3 separate regions of the Homo sapiens genome follow, and regions 2 and 3 are each linked to region 1. The links come from fine-mapping of genetic effects on gene expression. A gene starts in region 1. Each other region holds a variant in brackets. All regions are shown on one strand. Distances are between the middles of the regions.

The links. PIP is the estimated chance that this variant, and not a neighbour inherited with it, causes the effect.
Region 2: its variant is the best candidate, but not a certain one, in a credible set for the expression of AMH in prefrontal cortex (ROSMAP, PIP 0.85).
Region 3: its variant is the best candidate, but not a certain one, in a credible set for the expression of AMH in prefrontal cortex (ROSMAP, PIP 0.66).

The regions. Positions count from the first base shown.
Region 1 is chr19:2,245,878-2,254,045 of GRCh38, reverse strand. It overlaps AMH (anti-Mullerian hormone), which reads right to left and starts at 4,723. Exons shown (of 5, transcript NM_000479.5): 1 at 4,302-4,723; 2 at 3,567-3,709; 3 at 3,286-3,394; 4 at 3,038-3,197; 5 at 1,973-2,947. The coding sequence starts at 4,713. The coding sequence ends at 2,089. It overlaps SF3A2 (splicing factor 3a subunit 2), which reads right to left. Exons shown (of 9, transcript NM_007165.5): 6 at 7,244-7,293; 7 at 7,024-7,164; 8 at 6,384-6,452; 9 at 5,391-6,279. The coding sequence ends at 5,500. It overlaps JSRP1 (junctional sarcoplasmic reticulum protein 1), which reads left to right. Exons shown (of 7, transcript NM_144616.4): 5 at 253-426; 6 at 1,043-1,134; 7 at 1,250-1,794. The coding sequence ends at 1,717. MIR4321 (microRNA 4321) reads right to left here and starts at 3,407; the gene lies at 3,328-3,407. RefSeq lists enhancers at 475-684, 4,641-4,780, 6,835-7,336, 6,635-7,712, 7,966-8,168, a silencer at 3,341-3,400 and promoters at 4,714-4,745, 4,714-4,923, 4,714-4,993, 4,745-6,779, 4,714-7,712.
Region 2 is chr19:2,211,695-2,219,862 of GRCh38, reverse strand. DOT1L (DOT1 like histone lysine methyltransferase) reads right to left here. Exons shown (of 28, transcript NM_032482.3): 16 at 8,021-8,112; 17 at 6,223-6,324; 18 at 5,877-6,014; 19 at 5,267-5,392; 20 at 3,098-3,582; 21 at 2,773-2,908; 22 at 1,945-2,091. DOT1L-AS1 (DOT1L antisense RNA 1) reads left to right here and starts at 4,298. Exons shown (of 2, transcript XR_007067087.1): 1 at 4,298-4,369; 2 at 5,169-7,835. The variant T/C (reference allele first, on the strand shown) is at 4,762.
Region 3 is chr19:2,182,084-2,190,251 of GRCh38, reverse strand. It overlaps DOT1L (DOT1 like histone lysine methyltransferase), which reads right to left. Exons shown (of 28, transcript NM_032482.3): 3 at 4,323-4,397; 4 at 457-520. Among named protein-coding and RNA genes, the nearest start is that of DOT1L, 22 kb to the right of the region's middle. RefSeq lists enhancers at 7,067-7,156, 7,347-7,506. The variant C/T (reference allele first, on the strand shown) is at 4,014.

The DNA.
Region 1 (8,168 bases):
GGCAGGGAGCCTCTACTAATGCGTAATAATACCAGCTATGCCACTCAGCTCCGGGAAGTTACCTTCCAGAAACTCTAGGCATCCCCGTGCAGCTGCGGGGCACCCGGGGCTGGGTTCACCTGCGCCCGGGGCCGCACAGGCAGGCAGAGAGAGCCGGGTTCAGGGCACAGGCCTGTCTCTTGTCCCCTGCGCCCGGGGAAGGGGGCGGCACAGAGCCAGTGACCACAGCGCAGCGCGCACTTGCCCCCGCAGGCCCTCGGAGCGTCCCCGCGCGCAAGAAGGCGCAGACCGCGCCGCCCCTGCAGCCGCCGCCGCCGCCCCCGGCCCTGAGCGAGGAGCTGCCCTGGGGAGACCTGTCGCTCAACAAGTGCCTGGTGCTCGCCTCGCTGGTGGCGCTGCTGGGCTCGGCTTTCCAGCTGTGCCGCGGTGAGCGCAGGCTCCCCAGAGGTGGGGCGAGGCTGGGGTCCACCTGTGCGCCTATTCCTCCAAGGAAAGGCGCTGTGCCGCCAGGGTGGGGTCTGGGAGCCTCCTCTCCAGGGCTGGGTCTTGCACGCCCCCAAAGTTGGTTTGTGCATCTCCCCTTAAGTGACGGGCCTTGCGCGCCCCTCTCACCCGGTGTGGACCTTTTGCGGGGCCCATTCCCCTCGCCGCGAGTAGGTTCTGGCTTCCGGATGAACCTTGTGCAACCCCTCCTGCCTCGTAGCGTTCTGCCGCCTTTCCCCTGCGCCCTCTCTGGGGACCGCTCAGCTCGTGAGCGCCCCCCGGGGGCACTCCTGCGACCCCTCCCTTGCTAGGGGCCTCCTACAGCCCGTGGTCGGGGGGAAGAATGACCAATTGAAAGAGCGAGGTTCGGAGAAGGGGCGCCGCGGCAGCGGAGTCCCGGAGTCCCTTCCCACGGCTCGGGGGCATCCTTAGTCTCAGCCGTACCGGGGGAGCCCCACTCCAACTGTCCAGGGAGGGGGGCTCTAGGGGTGAGGGAGGGATGGACAGTGTGGACCGTGCCTCGGCCCAGCTGACTCGGGTCCCGACCCTGTCGCTGCAGACGCCGTCCCTGGGGAGGCAGCACTCCAAGCACGTGTGCCCGAGCCCTGGGTCCCGCCAAGCTCAGCCCCGAGGGAGCCATCGTCGCCCCTGGTAAGAGCTTCCTTCCACTGACCGCGGGCATTGGGACCTTCATCCCCAAGGAAAGAAGGAGCCCGGGCCGGGGGGAAGGTGGGCGCTTACCCCAGGACCCCACTCTGTCTTGCAGCCTAAGTTCGAGGCCCAGGCGCCTCCATCAGCGCCGCCTGCGCCCCGGGCCGAGGCAGAGGTCAGACCCAAGATTCCCGGGAGTCGGGAGGCTGCAGAGAACGACGAAGAGGAGCCCGGCGAGGCCACCGGAGAGGCCGTCCGGGAGGACCGTGTGACCCTCGCAGACCGGGGACCCAAGGAGAGGCCTCGGAGAGAGGGGAAGCCGCGGAAGGAGAAGCCGCGGAAGGAGGAGAGACCTAAGAAAGAGAGGCCGCGGAAAGAGGAGAGGCCACGGGCCGCCAGGGAGCCCCGGGAAGCCCTACCCCAGCGCTGGGAGTCACGCGAAGGGGGCCACCGGCCGTGGGCACGGGACTCCAGGGACGCCGAGCCCAGGAAGAAGCAGGCCTGGGTGTCCCCGAGGCGTCCCGACGAGGAGCAGCGGCCTGGGAGTCGCCAGAAGCTCCGCGCAGGCAAGGGGCGGGACTGAGCCGGCCCCGCGCCGGAGTCCAGGGGCCCCTTCTGGACGCCCCGCGACTCTGGCGAAATAAAGCGAGTGCTGCGGCCGCAGAGTCACCTGCTCCTTTACGCCTGGACCCGGCACCAAGTCCGGGGCCTGAAAGACGGTGGTGGGGCGCTTCAGGCAGGGGAGAGACAGCGAGCGCTACAGGGCGGACCCGGGCCGTGCGCGAGGAGAGACGGCAAGGGAGGTCCCACGGGCCCCCTAACACGCACGGACACCCCAGCCGGTTGCTTGCTGGTCTTTATTGGGGCGATGCTTGGGGTCCGAATAAATATGGGAAGGGGCGCGAGCTGGGGCGCGTCCGGACCCTCGGGGCAGGAGTCCGCGCGGCGCAGGGGTCACCGGCAGCCACACTCGGTGGCCACCATGTTGGGCACGTGGTGCGCGCTGATGCGCTCCTCCGACAGGCTGATGAGCAGCTTGCCCGCGTAGGCGGTGGGCACGCAGCAGGGTGGGCGCGCCAGGGCGGCCCCACGGACCTGCATCTTCAGCAGCAGCACCACGTGGTTGCCGTAGCGCGGGTTGCGGTCGGACTGAGGCCAGCCGCACACGCCCTGGCAATTGTTGGCCTGGTAGGTCTCGGGGATGAGTACGGAGCGCTCGGCGCGGAGGTCTACGCTGAGCTCGCGCAGCGCGCACGGCCCGTCGGCGGCGGTGGCCCCCGCGCTGCGCTGTGCCCGACCCGGCCCGCGCGGATCCCGCCCGCGCCACTCCACGCGCAGGCCCTGCAGCGCCTTCAGGAGCAGCAGCGCTCGCAGGGGATCGCCGAGGCCGCCGGGGCCACCTGGGCAGAGCGCGAGCAGGCGCGCCAGCAGCGGGGCTGTGGCCGGAGGCAGACCCGGGAGGCTTCGCAGCTCGGCAGCCGCCGCTTGCAGTTCAGCAGCCACGCGGCGCGCCAGGGCCGTGGCCCACGGCGCCGACGTGGGGTCGTGCAGGGGCGCAGGATCCCCGGTGGTGGCCGCAGTGGGCCTCAGCAGCAGCAGCAGCGGCTCCTCGCCGTCGAGTAGGCGCTCCAGCGCCGCGGGGTCCGACAGGTTGACTAGGCCCTGCGGGAAGCCGGCCAGCGCGTCCGGATCCAGGGCCAGGCGCGGCGCGGAGGCCCGGGCCGGGGGGACCCGCAGCGCCCGCACCAGGCGCGTGAGCGTCTCCAGGAAGGGGTCTGCGCTGGGTGGCGACTCCTCGAGTTCCGCGGATGGCCTGGAACCCGCAATTGGAGGAGTTGAGAGCGGCCACGAGGCCACGCCGCCCCCGCCCGCTCCTGCCCCGTGTCCCGGTGCCTGCGCGCACCTGGGCGGCGGGAAGGGCACGGTGTCCAGCTGGCCGTGCGCAGGCAGCGGCGCGGGCTCGGACCGCGGCAGCAGGAGCAGGGCCGGGGTCATCCGTGTGAAGCAGCGGTGGTCGTCGCCGAACAGCAGTGCCTGCAGCCGGGCGGTACTCAGCCGGGAGTCTGCGGTGGGTGGGCACGCGGCTGGCTCAGGGGCTGGGGGCCCGGGGGCAGTCGACCCGGCTCCCCGTCCCTCTCCACGCGGACCTACCCTCTCCGCGGGGCTGCAGGGTCAAGGCCAGCCCGGAGCCGCGCCAGGCCCCCGCAGGGCGGTCCACCGCTAACACCAGGTAGCGGGTGTCTCGGGAGGGGCAGAGGCTCTGCGGAGACCAGGGCTCAGCCCGGCTGGATGGAGGCTTACCCAGCCCCGCTCTACCGGTCCCCTTCCTCCCATCGCCACTGGTTCTACGCTGTTCTCAGTACTGCAGACCCTGCAACAAATCCATGCCCCCCGCCACGGCCCGGGCACTGCCCCATGCAACTCCCTGGTACCTGGGCACCCGGCAGCCCAGCCCTCGTCACAGTGACCTCAGGGCCAGGCCCAGGGTACAGCACCAGCAGCGCCAGCTCTGGGGGGCCAGCTCCTCCAGGCGGGGGCTCCTGGAACCTCAGCGAGGGTGTTGGCTCCCAGGTCACTGCAGCCGGGACAGCAGGGGACGCCTGAGCCATTGAAGGCCACACCCCCCGGGAATCTTTGGGATCTGTCCCTGCCGCTCTGGCCACTGTGCAGGGGACCTCAAGCGGGGGACAAGGGTGCCCCTCTTAGCTGCCTTCCTGCAGCCAGGGAGCGGTGACGGCAGGGGCAGGCAGGGGCTGCGTCTGAGGCTGTGGGTGGGGCTGCCGCCCTGGGGTCTCTGGGTTGGGGTGCCCGATGAAGCCCCTTCCCCGCAGGGAGTATCTTAGGCCAGCGGCCCTGAGAACAGGCTGGGGCTGTGGGAAGAAGGGTTCCACTGGCCCCGAGCCCTGCGTCGTCTTCAGGGGTGGGGAGAAGGCAGCAGCTCTCTCCCTGGCACCGAGGCAGGGGCAAGTCTAAGAGCTGGGCTTCGGGGACAGGACAGAGTGTGGTGCCCACCTTCCAGGCCACGGACCCGCAACCCAGTCCTAGGAACAAGACCACAGCCTCCCTGCCCAGGGTGGGGGCTCTGCCAGCCCCTGATCTTCCCTAGGAGGACCCGGCCCACCTGAAGGAAGACGGCGGTGCCAAGCTTGGGGCTGGGCCCCACATACCTTCCTCCAGGTGTAGGACCACCAGGCGCTGCCCCCCAGGGTCCCGCAGCCAGGCCCCCAGCCGCCGTAGAGAGGGCAAGGCAGCCTGCCTGTCACCGGTGTTGCAGACCCCGAAGGTGGCCAGGTCTCGGGGGCCCCAGCGGGCCCTCTGCACGGCCCCCAGGAAGGCCTGCTCATAGGCGCTTAGAGCCCCCACCACCCGCAGGGGGGAGCTGCTGCCATTGCTGTCCCCGCCCAGTGCCACCAGGCACAGAGGCTCTTGTGGGCTGCCTGGAGGCCAGTCCAAGTCTTCTCGGAAGATGAGGCCACTGGTGCCCACAGCTGGCTCCTCTGCTCTGAGGGCCTCAGTCCCCAGCAGAGCCCCCAGGGCAGACAGCACTAGGGCCAGGCTGGTGAGAGGCAGGTCCCGCATCGTGGGTGCTGCCAGGGGCTGGGCTGCCTGCCTTAAGTGAGCCGAGTGGAAGGTGGGGTGTTTGTGCAGGACAGACCCCTATCTCCTCTGCCGCGACCTTGGGGGACAGTGCCCGGCGCCCCCACTCCAGGCAGAGTGGCCTTCTCAAAGAGCCCTTTCTGTCCCTGGCAGCCTATCTCCCTCCCCAGTGATAGAGCTGGGCCTGATGTGTCAACATGCCGTCCTTGAGGGCCATCCCCAGAAGACACAGGAGTGGGAACCAGGCTGGGAGTGACGGCCAGGCAACCAAACTAGACAGCGCTGGGGGCGGGGGGCCCAGATGTCCTGGGTGCTGAGGTGTGGGCCTGGAGGAGGAGGGTCCCAAGTCAGTGGGGGCGCCCTGTCCCTGCTCACCCTCCCCACCCCTGGTGGGCTATCTGGAGACCCCAAGGATATCGTGGAGTCTGCTCTTCCCTCCCCAGAACAGGACCCCAGATCCCCTCCTAGCTGGCTGGTGGGGTCTGTCCTCCACCAGGCCATCTCCAAGGTACAGCCATCTCTCAGGCCTCCCACAGGTGTCTCCTGGCGGGCCCCAGGCCCTCCCCAGTCGGCCCAAACTGGGGGATGGTGCTGTGCCTGGCACTCCCACACACACTGACACAGTAGGGCGGCGCTGCGGACATCAGTGCACTCAGGGCTGGGGGAGGCTGTTTAATGAGCGGGGGGCAGTACAAAAGAGCAGCCTTCTCTCAGTGGGAAAAGGCAAGAGCACCTGGCGCTGGGCTTGCTGGGGGAGGGAGCAGCTTCTCAGTTGGTTGGGGGAGGGGGAGGTATGTTCCCTGGGCCTTCGGAGGGAAGTGGGGGCCTCAGCATTGGGGGCATGGGAGTTGGGGGGTGCACCCCAGGATTTGAGGGGTGAACTCCCGGAGGCTGAGGGTGGACCCCAGGAGCCGACGGATGGACCCCGGGAGGTTGGGGGTGGACCCCCGGGGCCTGAGGGTGCATCCCTGGGGCTGGTGGGTGCACCCCTGGGGCCTGAGGGTGAACGGCGGGGGCTGCTGGGTGCACCCCCGGGGCCTGGGGGTGAACCCCCGCTGATGGGGGAGGATGGACCCCTGGGGCTGGTGGGTGAACCCCAGGGGCTGGTGGGTGGACTCCGGGGGCTGGTGGGTGAACCCCGGGGGCTGGAGGGTGGACTCCAGGAGCTGGGGGGTGGACCCCAGAGGTTGGTGGGTGGACCCCAGGGGCTGGGGGATGGACGCCAGGAGCTGGGGGGTGGACGCCAGGAGCTGGGGGATGGACCCCAGATGCAGGGGGATGCACCACTGGGGCCGGGGGGTGGACCCCTGGAGCTGGCGGGGGTAGCTGGGGTGGTCCCGGGGGCCCTGAGGGCGCAGGCCCTGTGGGGGGCATGGGTGGCAGAGGCAGGCCTCCTGGCGGGGGCGGTGGCAAAGACTCAGGCAGCGGTGGCCGAGGGGGCAGACCGTTCATCAGCGGGGGTGGAGGCCGCTTCACCCCAGGGGGGCCAGCAGGGAGGCTGGGTGGAGCCGGGGGCTTCTCCATCTTAAAGTGGAACTGGAGGAAGAACTAGAGAGACGGAGAAAGGTTCAGCAGGCACGGGTGGGGCTAGGGCAGGGCTAGGGCCGCCAGGGCTGGGTGGGAAGGAGCCAGGCTCGGGGCGAGCCACTCACCTGCTTGGTCTCCCGGTTCCAGTGTGTCCAGAACTTGCCCTCCGCCTTGTCGATCTCTCTGCTCGGCACCTGGGAGGGCGGGGGACAGAGAGGGCTCCTGGTCCCTGTGACCTCAGGGCGACCATCAGGCAGGGAGCCCGAGGCACTAGCCTCCCCAGCCCGGACTCTACCCTGGGAGCCCAGGAGAAGGCTGGTAAGACTTTCGTGGGGCACAGGGTTCAGTTCTGGAGTGAAACAGACCTGGCCTCAATGCTAGCACGCTGTTGGCCCCCTCCCTGGGCAGTCACCGTTTGTATTATTTGTTTCCTGATGGCCGCCCTGTCCAGGCATGGGGACAGGCTGTAGGAAGCCCTCCAGCAGCCTGGCCCAGGAAGTGAGGTCACTTGGCAAAGGCCTCACAGGCCTGGCGCTCAGCCCTGCCGGCCTCCCTTCTCATTGGCCCAGTGGAGCCCAAGCAGGCCCTCCTGCAGAGCCCAATGGGAGAGGTGCCCTGCCCGGCCTGTGCAGACCCTTCTGGCTCCGACTTGGGGGGGGCCCAGGGGACCCCAAGCCCGATGGGAGGGGCATCCTGCCCAGCCTATGCAGATCCTTCTGGCTTGCACATCTCAAGGGGGCCCAGGGAACCCCGCAGCCACGCTACCTTGAAGGCAATGGTCTCGTAGGGCTCGGCGGCCATGAGCAGGTACTGCCAGCGCCGGTCCGGAGGCTCGATCCTCTGCTCGTACGCAGACATGAAGCGGTGACGTGGCATGATGCCCTCGGCGATCTCAGGGTAGTCAATCTGCAGGGACACGGCCGGGTGGCAGAGCCGCCTCTTGGGTGCCTTTGGCCGCCCCCCACGCCCAAGTCCCTGATCTCACCTGGAAGAGGAGGCTCTGCTGGCCCATCTCCGAGTCTCTCTGCTTGGTCACTGCAACACAGAAAGCTCTCAGGTCCCGGCTGCTTGTCCTCTCCGAAGCTGAGGAACCTGGGGCAGGCTAATGCCACCCACTGAACGAGAGCGGGACCCCGGGGGAGGCCCTGCAGCTCTGGCAACCATTAGACAATCTCCGCCCAGGCTCTGGGATTCTGGTATAGGTGAAGGCACAGGTGCGCCAGAGCTGAGCTACCTGCGGAGTCACTCAGGCAGGGACCGAGGATGGTGCTCCTTTGTCCCAATCCCCAGAGCCCTTCACCAGGGGTGCTGGGATACCACCCAGCAGGAGTTGGGGCCACTGGGTAGGGAGGGGCCCTCGGCACCCTGGCTCTGGGATTCGAGCGGGGCCGCCTGAACAGGGCTGACACCATGTATACGGTGAGCGAGAGAGGATGCCCTTCCCGCCAGAGCTCAGCAGCCTGGACCCCGAGAATGGCTGCTGGGCTGCCTGCCGCCCGGCCACTCTCCATGCGGCCTCAGACACGCACACTCACAAGCCCTCTGCCGCCTCACCGTCCTGAGCCCAAGCCCAGGACCTGTCAGGGCCTCCCCACCAGGAGCCTGCCGCTCTAGCCACCCTCGCCCACCCGGTGCACCTGCCCCGGGACCTCTGCCCTGCAGGCTTCTGTCTGGAGGCCAGGCACACAGGCTGTCCCCGCCTTCTGTAAAGAACACTTGCTGGGTAGCGTGCCCGCCTTCCTGAACCCTATGGACACAAGTCTCTATCTTCCACCCTGGTCACTTCCCCAGCTTTCTGAACCGGGGTCACCTCTAGCCATTCCCACTGCTGAGGGTCCGGGAGGAGCTGCCTCTAACAGCCGCTTCTCCCTGTCCTCCTTCAAAGGCTTCAAGGTTAACCGGAGGGATGT
Region 2 (8,168 bases), 34 kb after region 1:
GGGGGTCCCGGGGTCCAGCTGTGGGGAGGGGGTACTGGGCACAACCCAAGCAACCCACAGCCCGCCCTCACCGGGAAGCGGCTGTGTTCTCCAAGCAGCACAAATGCCAGCAGTCGGGTGGGGTGAGGAGGGCGCTTGCGAGAACACACCTGCCGGCCACCACCCACTGCACTTCCCCACACCACACTCCAAGTCCAACAAAGGTCAGTAGAGTGACCGCAGAACCCAGTAGCTCCACTCCCACATGGGCCAAAGAGCAAACCTACATCCACACAGAAACCTGGACCCCAGCGCTCACAGCAGAACGATTCACAATCGCCAAAACAGGGAATCAAGCCGGGGTCCATCAACTGGGCACGGATGAAGATGGCACACTCCATCCACACAGGGAATGCCCTCACGTGCCAAGAGAAGGGACAGGCCCAGACATGAGCGTGTTCGGGGGCCCGGGGGCTGGGGGACGACTAGGGAGTGACTGCTGAGGCGGGCAACGCTTTTTCCCGGGTGAAGAAAATGTCCTGAATTAGACAGAGGTGTATAAAAGTACAAAAAACCGGCCGGGCACGGGGGCTGACACTTGGAATCCCAGCACTGTGGGAGGCCGAGGCGGGTGGGTCGACTGAGGCCAGGAGTTCGAGACCACCCTGGCCAACAGGGCAAAACCTCCACCTCTATTAAAAATACAAAAATTGGCCGGGTGCGGTGGCTCATGCCTGTCATCCCATCAATTTCGGAGGCTGAGGTGGGCAGATCACCTGAGGTCAGGAGTTTGAGACCAGCTCGGCCAAGATGGTGAAACCCTGTCTCTACTAAAAATACAAAAATCAGCTGGGCATAGTGGTGCATGCCTGTAATCCCAGCTACTCGGGAGGCTGAGGCAGGAGAACTGCTTGAACCCAGCAGGCGGAGGCTGCAGTGAGTAAAGATCACAAGATCGTGCCACTGCCCTCCAGCCTGGGCAACAGAGCAAGACTCCGTCTCAGCTGGTGGGGGCGGGGATTAACCGGGCGTGGTGGTGGGCACCTGTAATCCCAGCTACTCGGGAGGCTGAGGCAGGAGAATGGCATGAACCTGGGAGGCAGAGATTGCAGTGAGCCGAGATCACACAATTGCACTCCAGCCTGGGGGACAGAATGAGTCTCCATCTCGAAAAATAAAAAAAAAGAAAGAGGCCAGACGTCGTGGCTCACGCCTGTAATCCCAGCACTTTGGGAGGCCCAGGCGGGCGGATCACTAGGTCAGGAGATCAAGACCATCCTGGCTAACACGGTGAAACCCCATCTCTACTAAAAATACAAAAAATTAGCCAGGCGTGGTGGCGGGCGCCTGTAGTCCCAGCTACTCGGGAGGCTGAGGCAGGAGAATGGCGTGAACCCGGGAGGTGGAGCTTGCAGTGAGCCGAGATCGCACCACTGCACTCCAGCCTGGGCGACAGAGTGAGACTCCGTCTGAAAAATAAAAATAAAAAATAAAAAATAAATGCTAAAAACCACTGAAGCATATACTTGAAGCGCACAATTTTTAAAAAATAGTTCAATGCCCAGAAAATCCCGCCCATGCTACACAAGACGAGATTCTCTGCATGCACAGCGCTGGGTGGGAGAACCCAGAGGCAGCTGTGAGGACAGGGGCCACGGCAGCCAATGTGGCCTCGTGAGGAGTGAGGCTGGGAGCCAGGGTGGGCCTCTGAGCTCCTCCTCAACCCAGAAGGTGTGAGGCCCTCTCCACTTGCACACGTACCTTTCACCCAAAAGAAAAAGACTGGCGAAAACAACGGCCCAGGTCACCGGACACGCCCCGGCTTTGGACAGCCCACCTTGACTGCATTGCCTCACGCTCGACATTTTACAGCGTGAGACTTCGCAAAGTGAGCCAGGTCTCGAGCACCCCAGACTGTTTTGCCTCAACGTGGCCCTTGGGGACAGCCACCTGGGAGCCACTCACCGCCCTCTCGGCGCGGCTGGGCAGCACCACGCTGGCCAGGGGAATGCTGACCGGGAGCTTGTTGGGCTGCACGGTGCTGAGCGGGATGCTGATGGGCAGGCTGGTGATGAGCTCCCCGCTGCTGCCGTAGGCGCGCTCTCTCAGGCCCTGCAGACGAAGGCCCGACCCCCAGTCGTGGGTCAACAAACCCCTCCAGGACACAGGGACCACAGCCACAGGACGGGGGCCTGCTACAGCTCTCTCAAGGCGGCCCCCACGCTGCCAAGGCCCTGCAACCTTCCCCACGCAGTCAGGCCCTCCTGGACACCGGCTTTGGGACACTCCAGAGGGACGGCACGCTCCTGGTGTCTGAAAGCAATGCCCATCTGTCCCCTCCAGCCTGCCCGCCCGGCTCGGTGGGCAGTCACCCGTGGGGCCACCAAGCCTCCCAGGGCCCACATCCATCACTGCCAAGTCCATGCAACGTCACCGTCCTTCCCTCTCCATCCCTGTGCACACAGGCCAGTGCCCCCGGGGAAGTCCTCATGGGCAGCGGCCTCCCAAACTGGGCTCTGTGTCTCTACCAGCACTTGCCGTCCGTCACTGAGAACTAAGAGGCATCAGGGACACCCTGACAAACCCCATGTCCTCCATGGCACCTGCCCAACGTCACCTGTGACCTGTCCTTACTGGTTGCCCCCAACTCTGCCACAACATCCTACTCCAGGTCAGCCCCAGTACCTCACCGTGCCCCAAGGTCAACTAGGACAAGCCCTCCTGCTAGCAACTCGCTCAGGCCGCCTCTGCTGAGCACCTCCCTGAGCCCGGGGCAGGGGTCGCGGCCCGCACCTTCTCACTGCTCTTCTCTCCAGCAAGCTGCAAGGCCCCAGGGGACAGGGGCCGCGGGTCCTGAGGGCTCAGCTTCATGCTGCCAGGCACGCTGGGGCTCTGGTAGGGAAGGCCGTTCTCCTTGGTGTGCTCAGCTCTGGAATGAGAAGCTGCAGTCACTCTCGAGGGCCGTGGGCTGGCACTCAGAGGCAGCGGCCTGGCCCAGCACCTCCCCACCTCAGTCTCCTCAACAAACACACTCCTGCTGAGAACCCGACAGCCTGAGCACACCAGGCAGAGTCGGCAGGTACCAGCTGCAGACCCCCAGCCCCACCAGGGCACTCACCTCGAATGCAGCTCACTGGCAGCCGGCCTGCCGGGCACCGTGTGGTCCTGGCTCAGGTGCCGCCTCAGCACAATCTTGGCCGGGGACAGCCTAGTGTAGTCGGGTGCGGCTAGGCCAGACAGCTTCTCCAGGCGCGGCCGGCCGACGTGGCTAGGGGTACAGGGCACCACCTCCTGGTCCAGGGGTGAGGCCAGGTACTGGGGCGTGTTCTGCTTCGACGAAGGCCGGCTCAGCACACCGCAGAGCTCATAGCCAGCAGCCTGGCCGTTCATGGAGAGCTCCGGGCTCATGCTGCTCAAGTGAGGCAGCGAGAACTTGGTGCAGTCCAGCTCCAGGTGCAGCCGGCTGGCGTCAGGCTCCAGCTCGCGGCCCAGGGCGCCCTTCCCACGCAGGTGCAGGGACAGGGCGTCGTCAGGCGGCACACAGGACTTGAGCTGCAGGAGCTCCTGCTGCCGCTGGCTCTTCTCTAGCTCCACAATGCTGATCTGCAGGAGGAGAGATGGTGTCAGGCCCGCCCCACCGGGGGACCACTCCAGGGAACCAAGACTGCCACAGATGGACACCCGGAGGGGTGGCCAGGACCCCCGCTGCTTGTGTGGGATGGAAAAACCAAAGCTGCCGACCACATAGAGGCGGGGTCGGGAAGCTGGGGGCGTCAAATAAAGTCATGTGGAGGGCCGAGGATGGTTTTTGCTGACATGGAAGCACCTTCTTCAAAAAGAGCAACAGGAAGATACAAAGAGCTCTCGTCTCTCAAAATAGACTCTAAGTGTAAAACATCCAGTTTCACTAAGTGTAAAACCTGTGGAGGGACACGCCACTCGAGCGTGGCAGCTTCCCCGGGCGCTGAGTCTGAGAGGGGCTTTTTCCTTTTAGTTTATCTGTTCTGTTTACCTGCTTTCCTTTCTTTTAACAAACACATTGTTTTTTTATTACACAGAAAAGATGATGACAAAAATGGTCAGAACCCAAATATGCTCTTCCCGAGGGCTCTACTCCAGGCAGACCCACAGGGCCCGGCTGTGGTAAAGAGGTCGGCGACCTCCGTTTCTCTAATGTACGCTGGTGAGGCTCGCCTGGGCCACACACGTGAGGGAGCAGCTCGGGAGCACGTGAGTGGTGCTTCCCGACGTCCGTCAGCCGCCCGTGAGAGCCCGCCTCCGGGGACAGCCTTGCAGCAACGGTTTGGTGCAGTCATTTGAAAAGGCAGCAGAGGTCCAGCGACAGGGCACCAGGTCCATCAACAGTGAAACCACGCTGGGGACACGTAAGGTGAGCAGGCGGGCACAGTGTCGACGGGATGGGGCTCTGGGAACAAAGCCCGTGACCTGCTGCTTTCTAGGCTGCACGGCAGCTGTGGGCACCGCCCACCAGCACCTGCCTCTGCCTGGGAGCAGGGAGGAGAGCACCTTCCCGCTGCACACCCTCCTCCACACTTCCTCTACTCGGCCTCCACGAATGCGTTTCTCGGTGTCAGAAAGTACAAGCTATTTTATTTTTCAGATGGGGCCTGGCTCTGTCACCCAGGCTGGAGTGCAGTGGTGCAATCTCAGCTTGCTGCAGCCTCCACCTCCCGGGCTCAAACACGGCCCTTTTTGCCTCAATATGGCCCTTGGGGATGCCATCCTGGGAGCCAGAACTCCTGCCTCAGCCTCCCTGGGAGC[T/C]GGGACTATAGGCACACACCACCACACCCGGCTAATTTTTGTATTTTTGCTAGAGACAGAGTCCCACTGTGTTGGCCAGGCTGTTCTCCAACTCCTAGCCTCAGGTGATCTGCCCGCCTCAGCCTCCCAAGGTGCTGGGATTACAGGCATAAGCCCCTGCACCGATCCAGCTGTTTTTCTAATGAGCAAATTCTCCCCTATGACTGTTACAGAAATGATTTGCAAGGAGGCAGCCAGGAAATCAGGAAATCCTAGGTTAGCGCTGCGCATTCAGCCAAGCAATCCCGAGATGCCCCCGAGAGCTGAGGGCTAGAGTGAGGCAGAGTCATCCACACGGGCAGCCTGCGGCCCAAGACAGAAGGTTCCATAAGCCTCCACCCAACTGTCCTCCTCCACCTTCTTCCTAGGCTGCTGCAACCGCAACCACCCTAGGCTCAACGACGTCACAGGGAGGCTGATGGGAGAGGCTCGGACACCACGGAGTGCAGCCTCGCGCGCAGCCCACCTGCAGCTCCAGGCAGTGCCTCTGCTTCTCCGAGATCTGGCTCTTCAGGGCCTGCTTCTCCTTCAACAGCTTCTCCAGCGACAGCGTGGCCCAGTCCAGCTGCAGCTCCTCGCAGCGAGCCTTGAGCTGAGGGGATAGGGATGGGACAGTTGCGACTGGCTGGCTGCCTGCCCAGCACACCCCACACTCTCAGGGCAGGGTTCCCTGGGCCTGCCTCAGCCAACAGCATGTGTGCTTAGGGCACAGACCCCGTTTCTGGAATAGCAGGCTGAGGATGCGGAACACGCGGAGACTGGGGCCCCCCACGGACAGATGAGGCAGCTCCAGCACCCACACCACGATGGTGGGATGCTCGCATGACCCCACACCTCGAGCCTGCCAGAGTGTGGCTCCATGACACCCAGGGCCGCTGAGAAACCATCCAGCCGAGGGGCCCAGGCCTGCCTGCTGTGACGCGCTCGACAAGCTTTCACAGGTGGCGCAATTCGTCTGGGAACAAACCCCACAACAGAGGCGGGCCTTCCAGAGCCTCCCACCCGCACAGAGGACACACCCGCCCAGGCAGGGCCCCTCTGGTTCCACGTCCCTGTCCTTGCGCCGCGGCACCCACCAGCTGCAAGCTCTGGCCGCGGAGCGCGCGGTTGTCCTGCTCCAGCTGCTCCGACTGCTCCCGCAGCTGCTGGTTATGGGCGGAGATCTCCTTCTGCGCTTGAATCAGGTCGTTGTAGGTCAGCGCCTTCACACCCAGCTGGGGACATGGGGCGGGGGAGAGGTCATGCTGGTGGCCTCCAAGGTGAAGTAAGCCCCCAGGCATGACCACCCCTGCAGCCCAGCCCCTGGGACACAGCTGGACAGAGGCATAGACAGGAAGCCACAGGAAGCCATACCGACGGACATGGACCACCCCAGCCTGCGCCCCAGCTGCCACCTGCCACCTGCCCTCTGGGGTCCACTACCTCATCCAATTTTTGCTGAAACAGCCTCCTGATCTCCTCCTTCTGGGCCTGGCAGTGGCTGAGGAGCTGCTGAGCCGCACCCAGGAGCTGGGCGTTCTTCTCCTGTAGGACAAACAGGGCAGGTGACTAAGGGCCAGGGCAGGTGACTGAGGGCCCACAGGGAGGGCCCACGCCCTGCCTCTCATGCTTCCTGAAGACACGCTCAAGGACAGACATGCCTGAGGGGACCCACACCGGGCTGAGATGTCAAGAAATACTCAGGCCACGGCGGGAGGGGACCAGCTCTGCATCAGGTTCACTGCAAAGAACTCTCGCCAGCTGGAGGGACTGCACCTGCCACCCCACCTGGACTCAGCCAGGGCAGCGCCCCCAGCCACGCAGAGGCCGGCCAATGCCAAGGAGTTTATCCCAAGGCAATACCAGGGGATGGACTTTTCACATGGATCTGCAAGGAAGCCTTCTGCAGCGTAACAGCAAACACTCAGTGTCCGGAGGCCCACCTCCAAGGGAAGACCCCAGGAGCCACTGACACAGGACAACCTTCAGACACCAGCAGAGAACAGGGCCCCGGCCCAGGCATGCTGTCAGCTACACAGTGAGCAATGCATGTGCATATATGCTCAAAGCACGCTGTAAGCTTTTTTTTAAAAGCAAAGCCAAAGTCCAAAATGCAAACCAGGGCTCAGGGACAGCCGACCTTGTGGCTCCAATGGCTTTTGGAGTTATCTCTGGGCCGCCAGAACTTCCACCCCATAGCCCGGCCCTAGCTCCCCACTAAAGCAGGTCCTCGGAGACTCCCAGGGCGGGGCCCCACAGCCGGGACCTCAGGTGAAGGAAATCATGTATACAGTGGTCCATTTCCAGGACAAACTGCCTTGAATTGGCTTAGGTCAGCAAACTACAGAAGAGACAGCATGTACTAGGCCCCTGCTTGGATCGCTGATGCCTGCTTGTCAGCCTCCCCTGCCCCCGCTTCCCCCGGCTTAGTTGCCCTCACCCGAACCAAAGAAGTTTAGCCTAAGATGAAGGTTTACCAGCCTGCAAAAGAGCTGGCTTTGTCTGTTCTTAATCAGCCTGCCCAGCTACTTAGATCATAAGTCAAATACTTGAACAGTCCCTGAGCTGACTGGGATTGCAATGCACAAAATGCAGCAGGACAACCCTAAAGAAAACACCTACAACCGGGCGTGGTGGCTCATGCCTGTAATCCCAGCACTTTGGGAGTCCGAGGCGGGAGGATCACGAGATTAGGAGATCAAGACCATCCTGGCCAACACAGTGAGACCCCGTCTCTACTAAAAATACAAAAAATTAGCCGGATGTGGTGGTGGGTGCCTGTAGTCCCAGCTACTTGGGAGGCTGAGGCAGGAGAATGGCGTGAACCCGGGAGGCGGAGTTTGCAGTGAGCCGAGATCACACCACTGCACTCCAGCCCCTGCCGAACCAATAGGCGACAACTGGGAAGACTGTGACCTCACAGTACTCAGCCTTTGAGGAACCGGGGGAGGGACCTGTGCACTAGGGGGAAGGTTGCTTGTTCAAACTGTGCTGGGTGTGCCTATCAGACACCAGGTCTTGCAAAACCATGATTAAAAGTCTCATTTTCGCTGTTTTCCGGGTCTCTCAGTCCATTCTTTGGGTTTAAACGGGTAGGTTTGTTTCTCGCAGCAGGTGAGCAGAGGAGGGAGCCCACTCAGGCCTGCGCTCCAGGGCCTCTGCCACAGGGGACAGATGCCCAGGAACAGGAACGAACTGCCTCTGTGCGGGAAGGCGGAATGCCAAGGGGGCCAGGACCCACCTTCTCCTGGCCCAGCAGCTCCTGCAGGCTGGCCTTGTACTGGGGGGTCTTTGTGTATGCCAGGAACTGCAGGTACTGGATCTTGAAGGACTCTGGGAAGAGAGGCGGAACACAGGTGAGAAGAGAGCAGCTGAGACTGAGAGGGAAG
Region 3 (8,168 bases), 64 kb after region 1:
GTGAGGAAAGCCTCACGAGACACAGCAGGACCGGGGTGCCCAAGGGTGCAGCCCAGGCCGGCATCCAGCCTGATGAAGGCAGGCGGTGTGGGGGAGGTCCAAGGGGGAAGGCCGGCATTCACACAGCCCGGGGAGGACAGGGACCCCGCCTCTGCTGGGACCTGCGGACACCAACCCAGGGCTGCAGAGGCGTGTGCAGACACCACAACCCTCAGGGCCCTGCCTCAGCACACAAACCACGGACGGCTCTGCTTTGGCACACGGCCACAGCACACAGCCCAGCCTCGGCAGCCCCCACACCACTCACCCACAGCCCATCGTCCCCCCACGCTGCACATTCCAATCCCCAGGGGCTCTAAGGGGAGCTCTGTGCCCCGAGGCGGTGACATAAGGGGTCTGGAGGGGTCCGGGAGCCTGGCACTACTAACCCCCTCTGGGCAGGGGCAAGCCACCTACCAGCTGGTGGATGCTGTCGATGGCACGGTTGTACTTGTCGCAGAGCCTCTGCATGCTCTCGAAGCTGAAAAAGGCAAGGGAAGGCCCTGGTCATGCGGGCAGGAGCCAGCCGCATGCATGGGAGGGGACAGCATGTGGATAAGGCAGGCTCCAAGGTGTGGTCCCTGCCTGGACAGCCACCAGCCAGCTGGCCAAGACCCTTCTGGCAGAAGCCTCGCTTTCCGCCCTGATGCAGGAGATTTCAGGTTTGACACACAAGCGAGGTGGCCGGCCGAGAGTCCGGTGCAGGGAAGCACTGAGCCCTGAGGCAGTCTGGACCTGCCCAGGCTCCCGCGCAAAGCCGAGGTCCACGTGTGCTGGAGGCGTGAGGAGAGAAAGAGGGCTCGAGGGGGACTGAGGCCAGCCCCCCAAGTGGGAAACCCTGGGGCCGGCCTTAGAGGGTCTTCCTTGCCCTGGCTGGGGACAGCCACCATCGCCAGAGGCAGGTGAACGGCTGGGGTCTCCCAGGGACCACCAGGCCTCTGCCCGGGCAGGTGCAGGAGGAGTGAGCACTGCAGAAAGGAAGATGCCTCACCCCCACCCACACTGCTCTGTGAGCGTGTCCTTCCAAAGCTCCAACTCATTCACACGTCAGCAGTGTGTCATGTCAGCAGTGTGTCACGTCAGCAGTGTGTCACGTCAGCAGTGTGTCATGTCAGACACGGCACAGCAGGGTCCACAGTGAGACTCAGTCCCCCCGCAGCAACTCTGCCCTCCTTGCCCTGGCCGCAAGGCAAACCCTCATTACCTAAGTGCCCACAACCCAACAGCATCGGGGCAGAGCCCACCAGAGGGCAGGGGGCACCTGTGCTCCAGGGAGTGCCCACTGTCTGTGGGGCACGTGAGCCACAAGAAACACCGGCCACGCGGCCCAGCCAGGCCTGGGCTCAGAGGGGCTTCCGGGGTGGGGGCAAGCCTGCTACGGGGTCTGCCTGGCCTAGTCTGTCCAGTCTCCACCTGGGATAACTTGCTCATCTTCCAAGTCTGTTGGACCCACTGGCAAAATGTGGACAACAGCGTCTGTCCCTCCACCTCAGAAGGTGTCCAGAGCAGAGCAAGAGACAGGAGGAGGAGGCGTACCTGTCCAGTGAACACTGTCACACACAGTGGCTCTCACCGGGGACCCCAGGAATGTGGCGAGGCAAGCAAGAGATGGAGGCAGGGACCCTGCTCGGCACCCTGCAGTGCCCAGGACGGCCCCTCCCAGAGAACAATCCGACTTCCACATCCCCAGCGCCGAGGGGGCCTGCACCTGTGCGGGTGGGGGGGGGGGGGGCGGCGGCTGGGGACTCTTTCCTCCGCCTCCGTCCTCCGCCACCTCCACGTGCACGCAAGCAGTTTCCTCCCAATGGCAACCCCAAGAGCCTGGCAGATGCTCCGAGACGTGGCTAAACAATCACACCCCTGCTCCCACCCCAGCCCCAGCCCCATGCTCTTCCTGCCCTGCCCTGGCCACCCTGAATTCACCTGGGCACTGCATGTGCCGAGGTTCACACTTCCCCTTCCTCATAGGAAAACCAGTGCTCCACAGGCCAAGTTCATGTTTTCCTTAACCAGCAGCTGCATAGGATAAAGCAAGAGAACTTAAGAGGAGCAAACACCAAGAACAAGAGCCTGCCGACAGCCCCGGGAGCACGGCCACACAGGACCTGGATCCTCCGGAGGACGAAGGACACGGGGGTGGAAGGAGCCCAGGTGGTGCAGAGGGCCAGCAGGCACCATGCGGGCCGGAGGAACCCACAGAGCCGGCCTGCTGCCTCCCGCCTTCCCCGCAGCTCCAGAGGAGCAGCCCTGGCCCTTCCTGTCTTTTCACTTCCCTTTTTTTTTTTTTTTCTGAGATGGAGTCTCGCTCTGTCACCCAGGCTGGAGTGCGGTGGCGCGATCTCAGCTCACTGCAAGCTCCGCCTCCCGGGTTCACACCATTCTCCTGCCTCAGCCTCCTGACTAACTGGGACTACAGGCACCCGCCACCACGCCCGGCTAATTTTTTGTATTTTTAGTAGAGACGGGGTTTCACTGTGCTAGCGAGGATGGTCTCGATCTCCTGACCTCGTGATCCATCCGCCTCGGCCTCCCAAAGTGCTGGGATTACAGGTGTGAGCCACGGTGCCCAGCCCCTGTGTTTCCACTTCTACACGCCGCCTTCAACCCTGACAACCAGACCTTCCCAAAATCACCTCTGCACGCTCCTGGGAAGAGACTCTTCCCTGGCAGGCTGTGCAAATGCAGGTGCTCAGAGGAGCTGGGGCTGTCCTTGGTCTGAAGCCCTAATGGCTCGGTCCCTCAGGTGGCCCTGCCAGCTCCAACGAAGACCCCCTGCCCAGCCTGTCCCTGATGTCCTTCCAGCCTTGGCTAAGCCCATCCCACGCGAAGAGGAAGGACGCCACACACCCACGTGGAGGGGCGCCGTGAGCACAGCGTCTGACACGCTCGCTGCTCAGAGCCAAGGCAGAAGCTGGCCACACACAAGTGAGGTGCCATAACTGCCCCAGGTTAATGTGAAAGGGCTCAGCCCGACAACACCCACTCATCCGAGGGGACTCTAGTTCCTAACAAAGCTCCTGATCCCTGGGAACTTCTAGGTGACAGGAGTGTCTTCTGTTGTAAGGAAGCGACTTGTGGGGGGCTCCTGGGTGAGGTAAAGCCCAAGCTGCGGTAAGAAGCTTAGAAAGAGGGGACTGGAGATGGAGGCAATCATCAAGCAAGTCTCCGAGAAGCCTCCGTGAAAACCCGAAAGCACAGGGTGCAGAGCTTTGGGGTTAGTGCTCCCCAACTCCACGGACACAGAGCTCTGTGCAGGGCCCTGCAGGCCCCTCCCTGTGGACCCTGCCATGCGGCTGTTGATCTGCACGCTGCATCACACTCTTCATACTAAACCAGGGAAGGGCCCAGCACACCATCACGCCCAATGAGGGGGGGTGGCGAGAGGCCCCGACATGCGAGGCAGGTGGCGTGAAATCCACAGCAGCAGGTCGGCACGCAGGACCCTGCCAGCAACACGCTTGTCTGCCTGTGGGGCACCAGGGTGCTGACCAGGGAATGGGCAGGGCTCGAGGGAGGGGCACAGGATCTCGAGGTTTACTGAGGCTGAGACCGCTGACCCCAGACAAGAGTCCCTCCCACATGCCAGTGAGGCCGGAGAGCCAGGTAAAGTGCAGCCGCGTGGCCCTCTGGGCTTGACTCTCTGTGGAGAGGGGCTCACCTAAGCTCACGACAGCACAGCCCTTGATGGAGGACTACTCTGTTGATTTCAGACTCAAGAGCTGAAAAAGGCATGAGCCTGGAATGTCTTCCTTGTCAAAGAAAAACAAAACACTTCCAAGCAAGCATTCCAGAGACAGCCCTGCCCCTCTCCACCCACAAGACCCTCCTCCGAGACCCAGGAGCTGCCAGGGCGAAATTGCTAACGCAGCCACAGGGCTGGAGACAGAGGGACTAACCAAACCCAGCTGAGATCTAAACAGAGCTGCCAAGCAGCCTAAGGCCGCCCAGGCCCTCCCAGCAGCCTCAGGCAGGAA[C/T]GCGGACTTCTGGCCGTCAGCCGCCCGCTATAAAAAGAGCGATCACTAGCGCGGGCTGACTCCACACATGCCAATCCCACTTTCCACAACCGGAGTTTCCAATTCTGTCCGGCCTCTGACAGCCTTTGCCAAGAGTTGATAAACATTTCCTACCAAAATAACTTTATGGTGGCCACGGCCAACTCTAAAAGGAAATTTCAGATCAGCTTGCACCATCTAAGAAGAGCTAATTATAGGATGCGTCCTCCTGTCCTCCCCAAGAGCCGAGTCTGTCCTCGGAGCGGAGCGGCTGGACAGGACTCTGCTTACCTTTTGGTGTCATAGTCAATTAAAACGTAATTCTCCATAGCGAGCTTGAGATCCGGGATTTCTTCACAGACCCATCTGAAACACAGCAGCAGAAACGATCAGGAAGGGTTTGGTTTTTTTTGTTTTGTTTTGTGTTTTGTTTTTGTTTTTGTTTTTGTTTTGAGACGGAGTCTCACTCTGTTGCCCAGGCTGGAGTGCAGTGTCGTGATCTTGGCTCACTGCAAGCTCCGCCTCCTGGGTTCAAGCGATTCTCCTGCCTCAGCCTCCCAAGTAGCTGGGACTACAGGTGCCCACCACCACGCCTGGCTAATTTTTGTATTTTTAGTAGAGACCGGGTTAGGCCATTTTGGCAAGGCTGGTCTCAAACTCCTGACCTGAAGTGATCCGCCCACTTCAGCCTCCCACAGTGCTGGGATGACAGGTGTAAACAATCTTGAGTATTACCCCGCATGTTCTTAAACACTGCATCCTCTCCAACAGAAAACAAACATCCTTACCCCTCCACTCAAAGTGGAGAGAGAAGGGAGGCGTGACTTCAAAACGAAGGCTACGATGTTTACCACGAAGCTGTTACTGAATCACACAGGTATTACGTGGCTTCGAGGCCACACACCAGTGGCTCTGGGGACCTAAGTGAACTTATCTGCTACAGGGCTGGTCTAGGGACCCACTGGCCACATCAGAGCTCGAAAAGCAACTGACTGACTAGAAACTAAAGCCAACTGGTGCCGGGTGCGGTGGCTCACACCTGTAATCCCAGCACTCTGGGAGGCCGAGGTGGGCAGATCACGAGGTCAGGAGTTGGAGACCAGCCTGACCAACATGGAGAAACCCCGTCTCTACTAAAAATACAAAATACAAAAACACACTGGTGAATTCCATCAAACACTGACAAGACAAACACTAAACCTACAGAAACTTTCTCAGAGTTTTATGCAGCCAGCGTCATCTTGACACCAAAACCATAGAGACGCAAAGGGCTGGAAAGAAAGGACAAGAAAGGCAACAGCTGACCAACATCCCTGACCAACACACCCCACTATCCCTTAAAAACGTGAGGAAACCGCAGCGGCACCTCACAACCACACACAGCACCTCCTGGGGAGGAAAAGCTGCTTCACTCTAAAATTAGTCACTGCAATTCACCGAAGGAACAAGGACGGAGATCTGAGCAGCCCCGTGTGGGCGAGTACGGAAAGCCCACAGGACGGCATTCGGTGCCATCAGGACGGTACCCTCCAAGAGGCCAGAAATGGAAGGACACGCCTTCCGCTTGGAAAGGGCACGGGACCAGTCACTGAGCCGCTGTGACAGCAGCAGGCCCACCTTCCGCAGCCACCTGGCCTGCGGCTCTGCAGGAGGGGTCAGGGAGGGATGGGGGTTCGGCCTCTGCTCCCCAGTCCTCTTGACCTGCTAAGTCCAGCGGGCAGCTTCCCAGAACTCCGAGAGTAGCTTCATTGCCCCCTACCCCACGCCAAGTCCCCAGACTCCCCAACCAGCTGGCCAGGACCTGACCTCAGGTCCGGGTGCCCTCCAAGACCCTTCCACACTGAAAGACACAGCATCCTGTCAGAAGGGCTGTGGCATCCGCCCTCTGTGATTATTGGTGCCTCTCGTCACCCGTCCCCAGCATGGTCAACGCCTGCACACCTGGCCAACACCGGCAGGGGACCTCACAATGCAGATCATCAAAAGCCCCAGGCACCGAGCGAGGCCCCGAGAGCAACCCAAGCAAGGCCATCTGCAGTCACTTCTCATCACACTGTCCAGGAGGTTCCGGCCAGCGCAACTCGGCAAGAAAAACACTCAAAGCAGCAAGGAGCCTGAAAGGAGCGGCCGCACGGTCTTCACTCAGTCCCGTGGTTCTGCGCCACAGAGCGTGCTGAGGAATACGCGCGGACACCGCCAGAGCTCAGCAGGGGCATGGCCGATAGGCAAAAGGGAGCAGTCTTTACACATACTAGCAGCAAAGGATTGTCAAAATGCCACATAAAAAAGCACCAAAGGCCGGGCGTGGTGGCTCATGCCTATAATCCCAGTGCTTTGGGAGGCCGAGGCAGGCGGATCACGAGGTCAGGAGTTCGAGACCAGCCTGATCAACATGGTGAAACCCTGTCTCTACTAAAAACACAAAAATTTGCTGGGCATGGTGACGGGCGCCTCTAATCCCAGCTACTCGGGAGGCTGAGGAAGAAGAATCACTTGAACCCCGGAGACGGAGGCTGCAGGGAGCCGAGGATGCGCCACCACACTCCAGCCCGGGCAACAGAGTGAGACTCCGCCTTAAAAAAAAAAAAAAGCACTGAAGCAGGAATACCTGGGAGTGACACTGTTTAAACGCCCCTTTCCCCAAGCTGAACTGCAGGCTCAAACCAATTTCTAGAAAAAGCCCAGCTAGCTTTTCTGGAGAAATGGAAAGGCTGATTCTCAACGGACATCCAAACGAGGAGAGCCTAGGACAGCCCAATCATCTTTAAACAACAGCCCTCCCCACACTTCGGGAGGCCGAGGCGGGTGGATCACTTGAGGCCAGGAGTTTGAGACCAGCCTGGCCAAGGTGGCAAAACCTCGCCTCTACTAAAAATACAAAAATTAGCTGGGCGTGGTTGCAGGCACCTGTAATCCCTGCTACTCGGGAGGCTGAGGCAGGAGAATTGCTTGAACCTGGGAGGTGGAAGTTGCAGTGAGCTGAGATGGCACCACTGCACCCCAGCCTGAGCAGCAGAGCCAGACGCTGACTCAAAAAAACAACACCACTGTGGGAGGACGTGCTTGGGACACTGGCCGTATGGGGACTGAATGGTGTTTGCTGTGTAAGAACGTCGTCGGTGTTTCTAGAGGAAGTGAGACAGAAAAGGTCTGTGCAGCCACACCGTGAGAACCCTGGCCACATGCTGGGGATGCACGGGAGAAAGCAGCCTCTCCAGGTGGTGGGGGTTCGAGTTTCGAGGTCTCTGCCTACGTCGCGGATGCCCAGGTGTTGGTGCACGCCCCTGTGCCTGGACCCTGCTCCCTACAACGCTTAAGCTCCAGACTCCAGATGCGCTCCCCAGAAAACACACAAGGTTCAAACAAGACAGTCAGCTCCGAGCCCTGCAGAAGGCGAGCATGCAGCCAGAGAGGCACTCTCACCGCCACTGCCTGAGATCCGGGGGCCTGGGGTCTCCTCTGACCCCAGAAGTCTGTGCAGGCCCCTTCCCATGGGGAGCAGGTGCAGCTCCCCTGCTGCTGAGCACCTCCAGACACACTAGCAAGCGCCTGGTCAGAGAGGGGCTTCCACCCCTGCTGCACCGAGATCCTAACCCAGAGAGACCACGTCTGGGCAGCACTGGCAGAACCTGCACAGTCACAGCCCCGGGAAGCCACAGCCCTGGAGCACTCTTTCTTGTTTGGGTTTTGTTTCTTGAGACAGGGTCTCACTCTGTTGCCTGGCTGGAGGGCGGTGGCACAATCACAGCGCCACTGGTCTCAAGTGATCCTCCCACCTCAGCCCCGCAAGTAGCTGGGACCACAGGTGTGCACCACCATGCCCAGCTAATTTTTTACTTTTTTGTAGACTTGGGGTCTCATTATGTTGCCCGGCCAATCTCCAGCTCCTGGATTCAAGTGATCAACCCTCCCAGCCTCTCAAAGCACTGGGATTCCAGGTGTGAGCCACCATGCCCAGCTGAGCATTATTTATTTATTTATTTATTTATTTTTGAGATGGAGTCTCACTCTTATCACCCAGGCTGCAGTGCAGTGGCACCATCTTGGGTCACTGCAACCTCCGCCCCCTGGGTTCAAGCTATTCTCCTGCCTCAGCCTCCAAAGTAGCTGGGACTATAGGCACCTGCTACCTCACCC